Linked DNA regions of Homo sapiens. The protein of the gene in region 4 purifies or fractionates together with the protein of the main gene of each other region. This does not show direct contact. Each region holds a gene or a part of one and is shown on either strand. Other genes may lie near its edges.

Region 1 (3,878 bases), on a different chromosome or scaffold from region 4:
CGTTTACTCTGAGACCTGGTGAGACAGCAGCCTGGCCACTTGCGTGTAGGAGCCAATGTCAGGCCTTGTTGTCAGAGCTGTGACCAAGCCCCATCTGTGCTCCTCTCTGACTTGGTGACCTTTGGTGATGAGAGGCCTCTCACTCTCACTTTCCTCAGGTATGAGGTGGAAACAATTAACTACCAAACCTGGCTGTTAGATAAGCAAATAACATCTTGAATGTAAATTTCTTTTTAACTTGAGTGCTTTGCAATTCAAGATCCCAGATTATTGTATATATAAATTTCAGTGGAGTCAGAGGATTTTGTCCAGTTAACGTTTAACACAGCAGTTTTATCCTGGGGTCCATAGACCCAGAGGGATCTGTGGATAGCATTCAGTGAGTCTGTGGACTCAGGCAGGGGAAAAATATGCATCTTTATTACTAACCTCTAATTGAAATTCAGCATTCCTTCTGTTATGAATGTCATCAAGGAACCACAGTGCCATTAGCAGTATGTGTGATTTTATCACAAGGAGAAAAGTAGATATGTACATATCATTGCACGGATCCAGAGGTCCGAAATACAGCCTGAATGTACTACCTTGAATGTATGGCAGTTATCAGACTGGCTCATGGTCACGACTGAGGCCCAGTGCCATTCTGCCCACCTCCTGCAGCTTGCTCAGCTACCTGGCAACTCAGCATCAAGTAGCCGTTCAGACCTAAACAGTAAATTCAGGTGTTCTCACCCTTGGAGTTTTACTCAGAATGCCTTGGAGAATCCTGGCGTTTCTTTGGAGAAGACTACCTGTGCCTTGTTTCCCTTTTTTTTTTTTTTCTAAGAGACAGAGTCTCACTCTGTTGCCCAGGCTGGAGTGCAATGGTGCGAACGTGGCTCACTGCAACCTCCGCCTCCCAGGTTCAAGTGATTCTTCTGCCTCAGCCTCCTGAGTAGCTGGGATTACAGGTGCGTGCTACCAGCCCTGGCTAATTTTTGTATTTTTAGTAGAGACAGGGTTTCACCATGTTGGCCAAGCTGGTCTCGAACTCCTGACCTCAGGTGATCTGCCCACTTTGGCCTCCCAAAGTGCTGGGATTACAGGCACAAGCCACTGTGCCCGGCCTTGTTTACCTTTCTGTTACATTAGCAACAACATATCGTCATGAATCAGAATTTACACCACTTGTACAATAAAAGATCAGAATCCGTTGCATGCCTAGCATGGCACGTGGGACGTGTTGCCAAAGACCAGTGCAGTTTAATGTACTTCTTCAAGCTAAGTAACAACATCCATCACACAGATAATGTGTTCATAGAATAAAATTCAACTCTTCTATATTTTAAATGTATTGCTTTCCCAGCTAATGTGTGCATAAAGAAACACATACCTTACTGCATCACAAATTTATTTTTTACAAGTTAGTCACTGTTACTCAATGTGGTAGTTTCTCTCTGTAATCCAATGCACTTTATACATTTAGAAGCAATTTTCTGATAAATGTTTCATAAACTTCATGAAACCAACGAAATGGCCTGTAGCACAAAAATGTTTAAGCATTGTTTTTGCCACAAGTTTCCTTCAGCTTTAAAGGATTATGCAATCTTTATATTCAAATATACGATTGTAGGTATATTCTATTCTAATTCTAAAATAAATAAATATGAGTCTAAACCTCACTTTTTCAAAAATTCAGTTACAGAAAACATTATAAATGATAAAAAATGAGGATTAGATGGTAAGAATTTTATAGTTATATAAATATATTTTAATAAAAATTTAAAAATAGTTATACTTTGAAAAATGAAGCCACAAATAAAAATTTGTTGACTAGAATTAACAAAATTTCCTTTCCTGTAAATTATTTCTAGTTTGCAAAGTCAGTTAGTCTAAAGATTTCTTATTCTTTTAGTTGTGCTTAGGTGGGTTTTGAAAAGATTGCTTTATTTTAGAGTACTAGCATGATTCTTAAAAGCATACTTTTATTAATCACAAAAGCACAAAATTATGTCACATGTAATTTTATTGATTCAAACATATCTTATTATACCTACCACTACCATTAACTATTACCACCAGAAACCACCATTTTCACAAAAATTTTATGTACACATTATGTACATGTTCTTATTCTCATTCTCACCTGTGTTTGTGATAAACAAAATACAGAGTTGAAAAATTATGATTCAGCCTTGCTCCTACCCCAAATTAGTGTACATGTCTCAGATTCTTGGACTGAAAATAGAAAAATTTGACAAAGCAGCTGTGATATTCTTTGCTCATTGACCAGGAATTTTTCTTTACAGGTGTGGGGATATTTCTAGAATGCAGTTGACTGAATAGCAATCTTCATGTTCTCAATGTTGTTTTACATGTAATCATTGTCCTTAAGTCTCATTTGAATTAGGAAACTTATGTTGTAAGGAAATACTTGTGCTGCCTGATAGAAGGTGTCCTTCATGAAGGGTCTGGGGAGGGAGTAGGGGAGATGGGAGATGCATGGGTCTTGGCCCTAGAACAAAGGTAGTGGGGGCAGTTTGCATGCTTGTGACATCTGAGATCAATGACTAGGAAAAGGACACACAACCAGTGTCCCAGGGAAGAGTCACTGTGGATTAATAACTGCATAAGTCTATTTGACTTCTGGCCCTTGGCAGCTAGACAGGAGGGATAATGCTCTAATCCCAAGCTGCTCAAAAATGTGATCCTTTGGGCACAGCCTTGGTGTACCTTGGGCGTCTGTTAAAATCCAGAAGTTCTAATCTCTCCCCAGACCTGCTGAATGAAACTCTGAATTTTAACAAGATCCCCGAGTGAGTTTTAGACACATTACCATTTGAAAACCTCTGACCTTGTTCAGAGATTGGACTTCTGAACGTGGGGAAAAGGAGGAGATGATTACGAGCTCCTTGTCAGGGTGGGGAGGCTGGAACAAGAGTCCACTTCTGGTGACCCAGAGCAAAGGAGCAGAAGAAGGCAAGAGGACAGTAGAGTCGCTCAGTGCTTACTGGAGAGGAGGAGTCATATCCTGCATGTCCTCTTCTGCCCACCCACCTCAACCTATGGTGTGGAGTTGCTGCTTTCTCTTCTGAGAACTCCCCTCCCTCCATCCTAAACTAAACATGCTCAGGACCTTGGAAGGACTCTAACTGCTTCTCTACTAGCTCTTACACTTTTTTCTTTTTCCCTCTTTCTCACTTCCTATTCCTTCTTCCTTTCCTTCTTATTTATCCTAGACTTCTCTGGATTCGAACTTCTTCATCTGGAAAATGAGAAGTCATCTGTCCCAAGCTCCCACAGTTGTTCTGAGTCTCAAGTAGCATAACATAAGTGAGAATGTTTCATTAAGTACACTGTACATTATTAAAGTGAGAGATTAAATTATGTTTATAATCAAGGAGTTGAATTATCTTTTGAAGTCACGCCCCCAGTCCTCTACTTACCACCATGCATTCTTTCAATTCTGTTTGAACTGCAAGCACTGCAGTGACTTCGTCATTTGGACGTACTGACTTGGGAATGTCAAAATTCTTTATTATGATCTTCCGACTGATTGTGGGAAGAGAGAATCAGAACACCAGGATCAGAGACCAATCTTTGAGTGAGGGGGGAGCCATGAACAGGGCAAGGGGCACAGGATGGGCAAGGGAGGGAAATTATGGGGCTTGGATCAATTGTTCAGCATTGGAATCCCCTGGAATTTTCATGTGTTGATTGGATTGGTAACTTCACACAGATTTAATTTTGTTTAATAAAACAACTAGGACACTTTAAGATTCCTTAAAGAACTAAAAGTAGAACTACCATTTGATCCAGCAATCCCACTACTGGGTATCTACCCAGAGGAAAAGAAGTCATTATTTAGAAAAGATACTTGCACATGCATGTTTATAGTA
Region 2 (4,797 bases), on a different chromosome or scaffold from region 4:
ATAAAGTGGCTGAACTATGTTCTACTGTGGGATAGAAAGGAGAATCTGGAAGCCATGAACTTGAATATTTAGCCTAGGAGATTTCCAAGCAAAGTGCTGAAGGTACAGCTTGGTTCCTCCTTGATATTTATAGTAAAATACAAGAAGAAAGAGATAAATTGAAGAAGGAACTTTAAGCAAAAGGAAACAACGATTAACTGGGAGGTTCTCAGATTATTCAGAATACAAAGGATGCGGAAATTAGGAAATTCACTGTTAGAAAAGTGTGTTCTAGAGAGCAGGCCACGTGGCTGGACAACCATATGCTGAAGATACTAGCAGTGTGACTCATGGATCCCATCAATCATCTCAACAGAAACGAGGAATGGAGATGGGGTTATCAGTAAGGAACTGTGAAGAATCCTCTCGTCTAATGATATGGACCCCCTTGATATGTAAGGAGACTGACAAGGTTTTAAAGAATATCATACCAACAAAAATGCTGTCAGCCTGTACTGAAAGGAACAGAGATGGGACAAAATTTTTTAAAGTGTCTTACTTCTGGGATTTTATAGGCAAGAAATGGGCTAATACAGTTACTCAACTACAAACATGTGCAACCCTTCAGGGAAAAGTAAAAATGACTGAAGGCGAGCAGCATAGTGGGGGTTGGGGGTAGGGGAGAAACAGGCCCACACCAGCTGCAGACAGAGCCTCCATGGGCCCAGAGGGCAGAGGATCAAGCCACAGAGGATTATTCTCAGGCCCTGAAACCTAGAGAAATTTGTCCTGCTGAGTTTTGAACTTGCTTGAAACCGGAGATCCTTTATTCTTTCCATTTTCTTCCTTTTGAATGGGAATGTCTATCTTAACAGCTGTCTCATCCTCTCATCATTGTATTTTGGAAGCAGATAAGTTGTTTTCCAGTTTCACAGGTCCACAGATGGAGAATTTTATCCCAAATGAATCATGCCGAGTCCATACTCTTACCTAATTTAGATGATTTAAGACAATGAGATTTCAAACTTTTTGAGGTTATAATATTTGGAGATTTTGGACTTAAGAGTTCATGCTGTAGCTGGGCATGGTGGCTCATGCCTGTAATCCCAGCACTTTGGGAGGCCGAGGCGGGCAGATCACGAGGTCAGGAGATGGAGCCCATCCTAACATAGTGAAACCCCGTCTCCACTAAAAATACAAAAAATTAGCCAGGCATGGCGGCACGCTCCTGTAGTCCCAGCTACTTGGGAGACTGAGGCAGGAAAATGGCTTGAACCCAGGAGGCAGAGGTTGCAGTGAGCCAAGATTCTGCCACTACACTCCAGCCTGGGCGAGAGAGTGAAATTCCATCTAAAAAAAAAAAAAAAAAACAGAGTTCATGCTGTAATAGGTCGAGACTTTTGAGGATGTTGGGATGAGGTGAATTTATTTTGCATATGGGATGTAAATGAAGTTTTAGGGGTCAAAAAAAGAACTGTAGTGTATTAAACTGTGGCTCCCAAAAGTTATGTCCACCCAGAACCACAGTATGTGAGCAGACTAGATCTTTGGAGAGGTAATTATGGTAAGGATCTTGAGCTGAGAACATCCAGGAATAAGGTAGACCCTAAGAGACAGAAAAGAAGATGCAGAAAGAAGACCAAGGGAAGATGAAGGCAAAGACAGGAGTTTTGCCGCCACAAGTCAAGGAATACCAACCAAGCCACAAGAAGATAGAAGAGACAAGCAAAGATTCTTCCCTAGAGCCTTGATTTTGGACTTCTAGCCTCCAAAACTGTGAGATAATTTCTGATGTTTTAAGCTACCAAGTATGTAGCAGTTTTTTGGCAGCCTTAGGAAACTAATTTAAGAGACCGCCAATCATCAAAGATACAACAAATTGAACACCAAAAATAATGACTATGATAAATTAGAATGTATCACATATGGTAAAACTCATGAGTTCCTAATGATACTCCCTCCCAAACCTCACCTTTGGGAGTTGTGAGGGCGGGCATCAATTCATTTTTCTGAAAATTACTGATAAAGGGGAAAAAAATAAGCATTTATCCTGCTTTTTCTTTACAAACCGTATTACAAGGTAACCAAATAATTGATGAGGGAATTCTTTATGAAAGAATTCCAGTTAATAAATACAAAAGAAATGACCAAAAAAAATCACTCTTCTAATGAAATAATGGATATAGGCAAGAATTATCATTAAGTGAAAAGTTAAAAATAAATTACATTTGGATCCCACTGACAGAACCTAAACCAAATGATCCATTTAGTATCACTAAAAGTAGAACCACCACTTAAGTTACCTCCTAGAACGATCCAACAAGAATTCACAGCCCCATCTAATGGAATGACTATAAATCCTAATTTGTCTAGAACAATTCCAGTTTAAACTATTCCTTCTGTGTAATCATTATAGCACCCCCTTTCATTCTCAAAATTGTCTGATTGCAAATAAATTATATAACCACTCTTTATAAATATTTCTTGCCAAAGAAACTGAACCTAAACTCATCAAGCTCTACCAACTAGGGCTCTCAATCTTGGCTACAGACTGAAATCACTTGGTAAATTTTTTAAAATATTGATGATGACATTTTACCTCATGGGCTCTGATTAATTTATCGGAGATGTGGCCTAGGGATCAGGATAACTAAAAGCTCTCCAGATAATTCTAAAGTTTTAGCCAAAGTTCAGAACCACTGCTCTGTATTTAACTACTAATTTGTGGGAAATATGAGGGGTAAAGGAACATGTTAAATACCATAACAAGGATTCAATCAGCCAAATCCAAAATGTGGAAAATTATCCTGGAACAATAACCTATTTTTTTCAACAAATAAATAGCATGGGAAAGGAGCACAGGGGGTATGAGTTAAGAAAGGGGATTATTGGCTGGGTGCAGTGGCTCATGCCTATAATCCCAGCACTTTGGGAGGCGGAGGCGGGTGGATCACTTGAAATCAGGAGCTTGAGACCAGCTTGGCCAACATGGCAAAACCCTGTCGCTACTAAAAACACAAAATAAGCCAAGGCTGGTGGTGCATGCCTATAATCCCAGCTACTCGGGAGGCTGAAGCAGGAAAATCGCTTGAACCCAGGAGACGGACGATGCAGTGAGCCAAGATCACGCCACTGCACTCCAGCCTGGGCAACAAGGGCAAAACTCCATTTCAAAAAGAAAAAAAAAGGTGGGGGGAGGTGATTAAGGTTAAGAAAAACTTAAGAAACATATAAACTAAATGAAATGTGTAACTCTTAGTTGGATGATTTAAACAAATCAGTGTAAAAAGACACTTAAAGAATAAGAGAAGTCTGAACACAGACTGGATTAAGGAACTCTTTTGTTAGGTCGTAACAGTATTGTGGTTGTGCTTGTTAAAAATTCTTATCTGTTAGAAATACACACGGAAGTATTTATAGATTAAATGATGTGATGTGTGTTATTTCTTTGAAATTATTTCAACTATGGAAAAAAAGGAAGGAAGGAGGAAGGAAAGGAAAGGAGGGAAGAAAGAAGGGAGGGAGGGAGGGAAGGAGGGAGGGAGGGAGGGACAGAAATGAGTAGTTAGATGAGACAGGAATAGTAGATTAATTTTTGGCTTATAAATGTATAATATGCATGTCAGTATTAAAATACATTTGTAAGACATATTGGGAAGTGTAAAGAAAGAAAAACACATATGATTCTTGATATGTGCTGGGTTCTCAAAGAACTGACAGTGCTGGGTTCTATACGCTGGATAGACCAAAACAAAACAAAAAAAAGGACTATCTTTGGTCAAAGGCAGCTAATTAAAGCTTCTAGGAGGCCAGAAAGATGATATGAATGAAATTAAAATAACAATATAAATATTTCCTAAGTACAAGAAAGTGGGTATAGGTATGAGAAGGTTGGATAAGAACTATTACTACCCCAAAATTGCTAAATTCCAGAGATTATACCATAAACTGACTTTGAAAAACCCATGCTCCTGCTAATGGCTAAGCCACATAAAAGTGTCATTTTTTTTTAAGTCAAATGGTCAAGTATTAGCAATTTTGTTGGGTTGAATACAGTACATTTATACAATACTTGCCTTTCTCCTTTGCTAAAGTAAGTACATACAGTTAGCTCATAGTAAAATAATCAGAATTTTTAAGGGAAATATCACTTTTCTTTAAATAGTGGCTGTTCTCCTAATACAGAATTCAAAAATACCTCTTAAGTATCCATAGAAACTGAAATTTTATATTTATCTACTTACATATTCTTTAGTAAGAAAACCTTTCTGGCAAGGCACAGTGGCTCACGCCTGTAATCCCAGCACTTTGGGAGGCTGAGGCGGGCAGATCATGAGGTCAGGAGTTCAAGACCAGCCTGGCCAACATGGTGAAACCCTGTCTAAAAATTAGCTGGGCATTGTGGTGCACGCCTGTAATCCTAGCTACTCGGGGGACTGAGGCAGGAGAATTGCTTGAACCCAGGAGGTGGAGGTTGTAGTGAGCTGAGATGGCACCACTGTACTCCAGCCTAGGCGACAGAGCAAGACTCTGTCTCAAAAAAAAAGAAAAGAAAAAAGAAAATCTTTCCATTGTCAAAAAAAGTACAAACATAATCTTTAAAGTAAATCACAGCTTCAAAATATTTAGTGTATATTTTCTAAAAAATAAATGTGAGCTGTGAATACATATTTTAAGATGATCTCAAACAAAAATGTATTTCTTAGGGAACAAGTTAACTTAATGATTCCTAAGAAGTAACTTACATCAACTTTGTTTGAATGTAATTCAAATTATTCTAACATCCATACATTCCAGATAAAGAATTATGTGCTTTAT
Region 3 (4,797 bases), on a different chromosome or scaffold from region 4:
TCCCAAGGAGGACAGATTCTTTTTTGGGGGGGTTCCATAGAGTTCTGAGGGTTCTCTTGGGACTCTGGAGGAGAAGTGTGAGAGCAGTCCTGCCTTAGGGCAGAAGGATGGACCTGATCACTAAAAAACACCTACTGTGTGCCTGGCTGGGGGCTCGCCTGTGTGGGGAGAGGGCAGGGAGAAGGCCTGACAGCCCTTCCTCTTGGAAATGCACAGTCCTGAGAAACAGGGTGGGTCCCCAGTGCTTCCTGGAGTGCTCCAGGGGACCGCCCTAGGCCCATGTGAAATGGGCTGTGATCCCCTGATAAATCCTAGTATCAGGGACAAGGATCCAGTCAAGCCAGTGTCAACAAAGAGGGAAGTTATTGACTCCAATGACCATACATCCAGAGGGTCCTGTTTTGGGGCACAGCTAGATCCAGGGGGTCTTCCAGGCAGGAAGTAGAGGGAAGGCGGAAGGCCAGACATGGCACATCCCAGCTATCCCACACCCCCACCTTTATAGAGCTTTCTGGGTAGTCCCACCTAGTGACATCTGCATACATTTCCTGGGCCACTCCTAGCTGCAGGGGAGACTGAGAAATGTATTAATAATACTTTAGTCCCGGCAGTTGCTGCCTGCGGGAGATTGAGACCTCTGTTAACAGAGGAGGGGAATAGTATACTGGGAAGGCAACCAGGAGCCTCTGCCAGTAGCCCCGAGTCCTGATCCTCAGGGGGCTGGTTGCAGGCTCTTACCCACGCTAACCTGGACAGTCCTGCCAGGCCCTCAGTACTCAGCACCGCCCACTCACTTGGCACTGGAATGTGCATTAACTTTTAATTGGCTCCCCACTTAGAAGAAAGCACACATTCATCAGTTTCCCCCACAGCAACGGGAAAGCCAGGCCTGGGAACACATGGAGGAGGGCACCGCCGAGCCGCGAGGAGCTCTGGCCCCGGGGTGTCCCTCAGGGTGCTGGCCAGGCTGCCTTTGTTCCGCTTTACACATGGCCCTGTGTGATCTCATGTCCATCCGTATGCCAGGGCTGCCCAGAGCCCCAGCCAGACTGCTTGTCAGAGCCCTGCTTGGCTTCTCGCCCTGGATGTCCCACAGCAAACTAATCCTGTCTGAACTTGACCTCGACATCTTCCTCCCAGGCGTGCTCCTTTGCCTCACCTAGTCCGTTTCTCAGTGAAGAGCACCACCATCCACCTGCTTGCCCACACCAGAAACCTCATCTCATCCCTGTCTCCTCCCTCCCCCTTGCTATCCCTTTCTCCCCTCTCATTCCCTCTGTCTGTAGATATTTCTTTTTTTTTTTTTTTTTTACTTTTGAGATGGAGTTTTGCTCTTGTTGCCCAGGCTGGAGTGCAATGGCACGATCTTGGCTCACCGCCTCCCTGGTTCAAGCGATTCTCCTGCCTCAGCCTCCCGAGTAGCTGGGATTACAGGCATGCGCCACCACACCTGGCTAATTTTGTATTTTTAGTAGAGATGGGGTTTCTCCATGTTGGTCAGTCTGGTCTCGAACTCCCTACCTCAGGTGATCTGCCTGCCTTGGCCTCCCAAAATGGTAGGATTATAGGTGTGAGCCACTGCACCCAGCTGTAGCTACTTCTTTTCTTTTATGTTATTTTTATTTATTTATTTAGAGACGGAGTCCACCTCTGTCGCCCAGGCTGGAGTGCAGTGGCGCAATCTCGGCTCACTGCAACCTCCGCCTCCCAGGTTCAAGTGATTCTCCTGCCTTAGCCCCCCAAGTAGCTGGGATTACAGGCGCCCACCACCACACTCGGCTAATTTTTGTATTTTTAGTAGAGATGGGGTTTCACCACATTGGCCAGGCTAGTCTGGAACTCCTGACCTCAAGTGATCCGCCTGCCTTGGCCTCCCAAAGTACCGGGATTACAGGTGTGAGCCACCGTGCCTAGCCTGTCTGTAGATACATCTTTAGGAAGTGCTCAGCTGCTCAGCAGCACACTCTGAGACCCAGCCCCATCCTTTCTCTGCTTCACTGTTGTTGGTGAGTTGACCTTCGTGCTCTGCTTGTGGCCTCGTGTTCACAGCATGGCTGCTGCATGTCCAAGCTTCATGGCTGTCTGCAAGGCAGGAAGAAGTAGGGAGTGGGTAGGGCTGGCACCAGCAGCAGTGGTCTCTTCTATCCAGAAAGCAAAAGCAGACTTCCACCAAAATATCTGGCTAAAACTGTGTCCCATGGCCACCTCTGGCTGCAAGGGAGGCCAGGGACCTGAGTGCGTGTCTTTTTGAGGCTCAGGTTAGGGGATTTGGGAGAAGGGAACTGGGCACTGGTGTGGCCAGCTGACAGGGTCTGCTGCCCCCTAGCACAGCCGACTCAGCTTCCTCAGACACATCCACCTGCTCCTCTCCCGCCTCCCTCTGCTACCAAGCTGGGCCTCTGCCCCCTCTCTCCTGGCTTGCTGCAATCAGCCTTGATGACTCCATCCATTTACCTCACTGCAGCCTGAGAGCAATTCTAAAACACAGGTCTGACCACATTGCTCCCTTGAGAAGACTGTCGGCAGGTTACCACTATTCTCAGAGTAAAATCAATGTATCGTTCCCTTTGTTATCTGGGTGCCATCTCCTCTCCCTCCTCATCTTTCCCCACCCCTACCACTGTATGTCCCAGCCCTTCTGGCCTCATGGTCTATCATTCCCTCTGCCTGGAACCCTCCACCCACCCCATCTTTGCGCACTGGTCCTCACCGATGCCCTTCCGTGGTGGAACAGGTGCTTCCTTTGGGCTTCTATCACAGCAACTCGATCCCTCTGGCAGTTCTAAGCAGTCTGGCAGCGTCTTCTTAAAGGCAGGAACCCCAGCATGGCCTGGCCCAGGACTGGCCTTCAGGAGGACTGTGAATTCATGGAGGTGTTGGAAGCTGGGCAGGATTTGGATGGCTCTCTGTCATTGCCCAGCATAACCAATTGTGGGACCCCGGTCCCCTCTACACCCCCAGGGCCGGATCTCCTTCTACATGACCAACTATGGTGAGGAGGGCACGCACGTGGGGAGTGCCGCCGCCCTGGACAACACGGACCTGGTGTTTGGCCAGTACCGGGAGGCAGGTACGTCTGTCCGTGGTTTGGCCCTGTGGTCCCCATTGAAGTGTACACTTTAGTTTTTCTGAGTGTTCTTCCAGGAGCAGCATAGTGCCAGGAAGGTCTAAGGAGCTGGAAGAAGAGCTTTCCAAGCAAGAAAGAGACAAGCCAGGGTTAGGACTCTGGAGGGGGCAGTCTTCCCACTCTGAAGGCCAGAAAGTGTAGTGGCTCAGGGTCTGTGCTCTTAACCCTTTGTTACCAGTTGTCAGGTTTTGGGCAAGTCACTTCCCTTCTCTGAGCCTCAGTTTTCTAATCTCCAGAAGAGGGATTATGACGGTACCTGCATCCAAGGGTCGCTGGGAGGATGCAGTGAAGTCAACGTTCGCTGTGGGTGTGGCCTGTGCAGGAGACCCTGTCTGCCTGGTGCAGTGATCCCCTGGCCCCTCCTCAGGTGCTGTATCCTTCGGGGAGCAGGAGCAGGTGGAAGAACCTTGACAGACCTGAGTGCGGTGCAAGATTAGAGGGGCCCGGCAAGCCCAGATGAGTGAAAGGAAGGAAGGGTCAAAGACCAGGAATGAAGAAAATCATTGAGCAGGAATGAGTGCCTGGGAGCGAAGGAGTGAGCCCAGGGAGCAGTGAGTGGGGTCTTCCAGGGAGCTTGTTGGTGTGGGGCCCTGCATGGGGACTACCCTCAGAGTGTCAGCGAGCACTGATAGGGCCAGGAAGGCATATCTTAACCCTTTGTCTTAGATGCTTGGGGCAAGTTGCTTAACTGCCCTGTGCCTCTGTTTCCTCATTCGTAAGGGGGATGGTAGCCCTTCCCAAGACAGCTGTTGAGGGCAGTCTTGGGGCAGTTGGCAAAGTGCCCTCAGCACAGAGTAAGCGCTCAGGGCCAGGGGTTGGTGTCATGATCGGGGACTCGCCCTGGGACAGCCCTTCAGCAGGGCCAGACCACGTGGCTGTCCAGAGCCCCCATGGACCAGCATGGCTTGCAGCCTGCTCCTGGACTGTCTACTGCTCACAGCTGGACCAGGCCCTTGGCCCCACATGCTCTAGGAGGGCAAACGCCCTGTGGTGTTTGTCTAAGGTCTAGTGTCATCCGTGCGGAAAAAGATTTCCAGACACCAGGCAGCAAGCTGGGCCCCCGCCAGCTGTGCTGAGCACTGCACCTGTTTTTGCTGAAGGGTTCTCTTGTGAGGGCACCAGGCAGGACCGAGCAAGCCTCATGGGAATCATGGGAGCCGCTGAGCTCTCCACATGGGAGAGCTGGCCGCCTCTGCAAGAATGACTGTCCAGCACTGAGGGTCAGCAGAAGTGTCTGGGCAGCTGCAAATGGGACTCATGCAGAGGCAGCATGGTGCAGGGTAAGGAGTTGAGTCACATCCACTCTAGACTTCACTTGGCAGGCCACTCACCTTGGTGACGCTGTCTGTCGTCTGTGAAGTGAGAAGAGTGGTGTTCATCATGATAGGTAGTGCCTCCCTGGGCTCTTGACACCAGAGTGCTGTTCTTTTTTTCTTCTCCTTTTTTTTTTTTGAGATGGAATCTCGCTCTGTTGCCCAGGCTGGAGTGCAGTGGCGCGATCTCGGCTCACTGCAAGCTCCACCTCCTGGGTTCACGCCATTCTCCTGCTTCAGCCTCCCGAGTAGCTGGGACTACAGGCGCCCACCACCATGCCTGGCTAATTTTTTGTATTTTTAGTAGAGGCGGGTTTCACCATGTTAGCCAGGATGGTCTTGATCTCCTGACCTTGC
Region 4 (4,589 bases):
AACTCCTGGGCTCAAGTGATCCTCCTGCCTCAGCCTCCCAAAGTGCTGGAATTATAGGCTGAGCCACCATACCTGACAGAAGTCTTTCCAGTAGAAGAGATGGCTACTGATCACAACTAGACAGAATGGCTAAAGGGTAGAGATGGTTCATGTCCTAATAGGAAGAAAGAAAATTAGTTGGATAGAGAACACGTTGATAGATTTGGAGAGTGAGAAATTTCTTTTCTATTGTTTCCCTTGTCTCATAGAAAAAAAAGAAACAAAGTGAGAGAAGCATAGAAGGTCTGAATAAAGAGGAGAATACTTGTTGGGGAGAGGTTAAGTGTGAATTGATCAGAACAGTGTATAAGGATTGTCACACAGTGCTGCGGGCCTTTGATTTTCAGGGCCATAAATTTAAAGTAAAAAGAGTCAGTAGGTATAGATGCAAGCAGCTGGATGTTTTTCAGATCAGAAGGATAAGAATTTAGGGGATGTGCAAGGACAATGATGTCTATGCTAAAGAAAGTGAGGGTGATGGGCTGGGAGTGGTGGCTCACACCTGTAATCCCAGCACTTTGGGAGGCCGAGGCGGGTGGATCATGAGGTCAAGAGATTGATACCATCCTGGCCAACATGGTGAAACCCCATCTCTACTAAAAATACAAAAATTAGCTGGGTGTGGTGGTGCGCATCTGTAGTCCCAGCTACTCGGGAGGCTGGGGCAGAAGAATCGCTTGAACCCAGGAGATGGAGGCTGCGGTGAGCCGAGATCATGCCACTGCACTCCAGCCTGGCAACAGAGTGACACCCCATCTCTAAATAAATAAACAAACATTAAAAAAAAGAAAGTGAGGGTGATGAAATTATAGATAAGTGATAGATGATAGAATCAATTGTCTGAAGAACCTAGTGGAGTCAAAGAATTGTTGGTATATTCATAATCAAAACAGTAACCTAGAAAGAGGGGTGAGTAGGATGCTAGAAATTGGGACTGTGGAGGTGACGACAAGATCTAAAGCAGTGTTCTTCAAAACTATATGTTAAGTCCCATTAGTGGGTCATGAAATCAATTTGATGGATCAGCCTCTTAAATTAACATTATTAACCCTGCTGAACATAACAGTCTTGTAGGGGACCTTAAAAACACACAAACAAACAAAACCACCATCATGTCATTCTCAGTCACATGGAAGGAACTGGAGGACATTGTTAATTAAGTGAAATAAGTGAGAAACAGAAAGTTAAACACTGCATGTTCTCACTCGTATGTATAAGCTAAAAAAAAGATCTCACAGAAGTAAAAAGTAGAATAGAGGATACTAGAGGCTGGGAAGGATAGGGGAAAGGGAGCAATAGGGAGACATTTGCTAAAGGATACAAAATTATAGCTAGATAGGAAGAAGAAGTTCCTAGTATTCTCTACCACTGCAGGGTGACTATAGTTAATATATGGCTTCAAATGTCTAGGAAGAGGATACTGAATGTTCTCAACACAAAATGATAAATGAGATGATGGATATGCTAATTACAATGATTAGATCACAATATATGTATTGAAACATCACTACGTACCTCATAAATATGTACATTATATGTCAATTTTAAGTTTAAAAATTTTTAAAAGACCATACTTCAATTGCAGAATTTCTGATATATTTGGTCTGGTGTAGGGGTTCAGACATCAGTTATTCATTAAAATTCTCCAGATAACTACAATGTGCAGGTATAGTCAATAACCATTGGCCCAAGAAGATACTGATATAAAAAGGCTGATAATAGAACTAATGGTAGAAAGATAGTAAGCCACTTGCTAAAGTCTTCTAAGAATTAGGGAGAGAAGTATGAGATCACTTGTATGATGAATTACAATAAGGTACGGCAACAGGTGTCATAGTCTAATGGGAGTCAATGTGCTCAACAAAGAGCATTTGCAAGTGAGAAGAGCGTATATTCATACGCACACACGTTTAACCATTTTGTGGACAGATAACAAAAATAAACTTTGGCTTCATTTCTTATTATTTTGAACTAAATGGAAATAAAAGTCAGTTAAGAAAGGTGCCTGGCACCTATGTTCAGGGATTTGTCCATATCCCACCATGATAAAGTTTGATTTGAATAAACTTTACTTAATTTTAGAATTAAGAGTATCCCTAATATAAAATTATAAAAACCTTATTTGTAAGAAAGAGAAAATAAATAGGCTAGAAAGTTTATTGGCAAATCTAGGTCAAGCTCCATAATTTAAAATTATTTAAAACAAAATCAAAAACATCTATAAAAGGTCAGAACATTCAGTATTTTAAGATAAAATTTTTTCAAAACAATATCATGGTTATGAAAACAACATTTGGCAGGCTATACATTTTTAAATTATAGAAAACATTAAAAATAAAATATCTAACAAAATATGTCTTGCTGTTGCTTTTGGGGAAAAGGTGGAGACAAATATTTTTTATTTTATTTACATATATTTATTAAAAGATTTCCATATGGTATTGCAAACAGTCCCATGTCTCTTGTATTTTGCTATAATATATGAATTCACACAAAGGAGATGGGATACATAAAATTACAAAGGTGGTAGAAAAGCAAACCAGCCCACATCCTAATACACACTAAAAAGGGCATAATTCAGATATATAAGCCATATTAGTTTTAGAAAAAGAGCACTGCCCACCCCCAGGTATACACACACACACACACACACACACTTCACTTTATTAAACCACAAGAGGAAACAAAATATATCATAAGTAACTGATCATTCACTTTCCTATGTTAGTTTTTATGTTTTTCAATCATAATGAAATATATTAAGAACAGATTTTCTTCACGATTGATTTTTGTATCTGATATTCTTTTTTGTACTTCTGTTGTTTCATTAACATAGGTATACACCCAAATTCTTTAAAATTACAACTTTGAAAATTAATTGTAAAAAGCTGTTTTCCATGTATATTACACAGTTCGGCGTTAAAAATGGCATTTTGGGGAACTGGTAAATTATAACACACAGGCTTAGAAGAAAAAGAGTGGTATCACTGAATGTATATTGGAATTTAACAAAACGTTTTACTGTATTTACCCCATATATTTTTCTTTTTTTTTTTTTCTGAGACAGAGTGTTACTCTGTCACCCAGGCTGGAGTGCAATGGCATGATCTTGGCTCACCGCAGCCTCCACCTCCCGGGTTCAAGCAATTCTCCTGCCTCAGCCTCCCAAGTGGCTGGGATTACAGGTGCCCGCCACCAAGCCCAGATAATTTTTGTATTTTTAGTAGAGATGGGGTTTCACCACATTGCTCAGGCTGGTCTCAAACTCCTGACCTTAGGAAATCCACTCGCCTCGGCCTCCCAAAGTGCTGGGATTACAGGCGTGAGCCACTGCACCCGGCCTACCCCATATACTTTTATACTTTGAAACCTTAGATTAATACACCGAGGAATTTTATTTCCTAGAAAAATGTCCCAAATTTCTGTTCTATTGTTTTATACAAAACTCTGCATATAGCTTTTAGTTTGCTTTTGAATTTGTGTTACATAGAGTCCATATGATGATAGTTAACATTTTACATAATATATAAATGTATCTTTCTCATCATAGTTCTTCTAGATGGCAATAACACGTTATATATGGTAGTTATTTTACCAAGACCTCTGCTATTATAAGAAGACTAGACCTGAATATATTCCCCTTGACAACAGACAGTAGATCTATGAATAATTTTAAGAAGAAAAAGTTAAGCATGACAGCATAGCATCAAAGTTGATAATTCTTTGTGAATACATTAAGATATGGTCTAAACATAGGCATGACAACTAAAAACAAGTACTGTAAGAATATTTACATACACATATCATGGCTTATTAATAAACAGATTATTAAAGAATAATGTGAATACATTATATTAATTCACAGTATAAACATACTTTTAGTAATTTAATTCATGAATAATAAAAATATAGATACATTAGGCACTATTAATACATATTCTTGTTCTGTCATATATATGAAAATATACATATAGATATAGTTCTTTTAAACCAAACTTTTTAACATATTCACTGATTTAAATAAAAGTTGACAGAGGTAGAATTTGTGTCCATGTTCATGATTTTCAGCAACAAGTACTTCAAATATTTCATTACTGTTCTGTTCTTTTAAAAATCCACATAGGAACTCATTGAAAGCCATTATTCTGAAAGGGAGGAAATTGAAAGGTGGGTTAAGAGAAAAATGATAAAGTTATTCAACATATTCATAAAAAACTGAAATTCAATAATGTTATAAATGAAATTATAGAATCTAATAAAACTCTGTGCCCCACATCCAGTTATATTTAAGAAGTACTGTTCTACTTCTGAAAGTTCAAGTACTGTTTTATTCATTGTACTTTATTTTATTTATTTATTTATTTATTTATTTAGAGATAGGGTCTTGCCGTGTTGCCCAGGCTGGAGTGCAGTGGCGTGATCATAGCTCACTGCAGTCTTGATCTCCCATACTCAAGTGATCCTTCTGCCTCAGCCTCCAGGCAGGTGCACATCACCATGCCTGGCTCATTTTTTTTGGTATTTAGTATAGATGAGGTCTTACGATGTTG

Evidence for each region. Proteins that work in one complex are often made in the same cells at the same time.
Region 1: the proteins of CEP135 (region 4) and PIP purify together in Homo sapiens (co-immunoprecipitation; one large-scale study listed by IntAct). This does not show direct contact.
Region 2: the proteins of CEP135 (region 4) and ZMYM4 purify together in Homo sapiens (co-immunoprecipitation; one large-scale study listed by IntAct). This does not show direct contact.
Region 3: the proteins of CEP135 (region 4) and BCKDHA purify together in Homo sapiens (co-immunoprecipitation; one large-scale study listed by IntAct). This does not show direct contact.

Annotation. Positions count from the first base shown.
Region 1 is NC_000007.14:143,134,847-143,138,724, reverse strand, and holds part of PIP (prolactin-inducible protein precursor), read right to left. Parts: intron 3,532-3,878; coding exon 3,426-3,531; intron 1-3,425.
Region 2 is NC_000001.11:35,274,979-35,279,775, reverse strand, and holds part of ZMYM4 (zinc finger MYM-type protein 4), read right to left. Parts: intron 1-4,797. UniProt on the Homo sapiens protein: Plays a role in the regulation of cell morphology and cytoskeletal organization.
Region 3 is NC_000019.10:41,411,088-41,415,884, forward strand, and holds part of BCKDHA (2-oxoisovalerate dehydrogenase subunit alpha, mitochondrial isoform 1 precursor), read left to right. Parts: intron 1-2,961; coding exon 2,962-3,070; intron 3,071-4,797. UniProt on the Homo sapiens protein: Together with BCKDHB forms the heterotetrameric E1 subunit of the mitochondrial branched-chain alpha-ketoacid dehydrogenase (BCKD) complex.
Region 4 is NC_000004.12:56,030,955-56,035,543, reverse strand, and holds the end of CEP135 (centrosomal protein of 135 kDa), read right to left. Parts: intron 4,185-4,589; 3' UTR 2,183-4,184; downstream 1-2,182. UniProt on the Homo sapiens protein: Centrosomal microtubule-binding protein involved in centriole biogenesis. Acts as a scaffolding protein during early centriole biogenesis.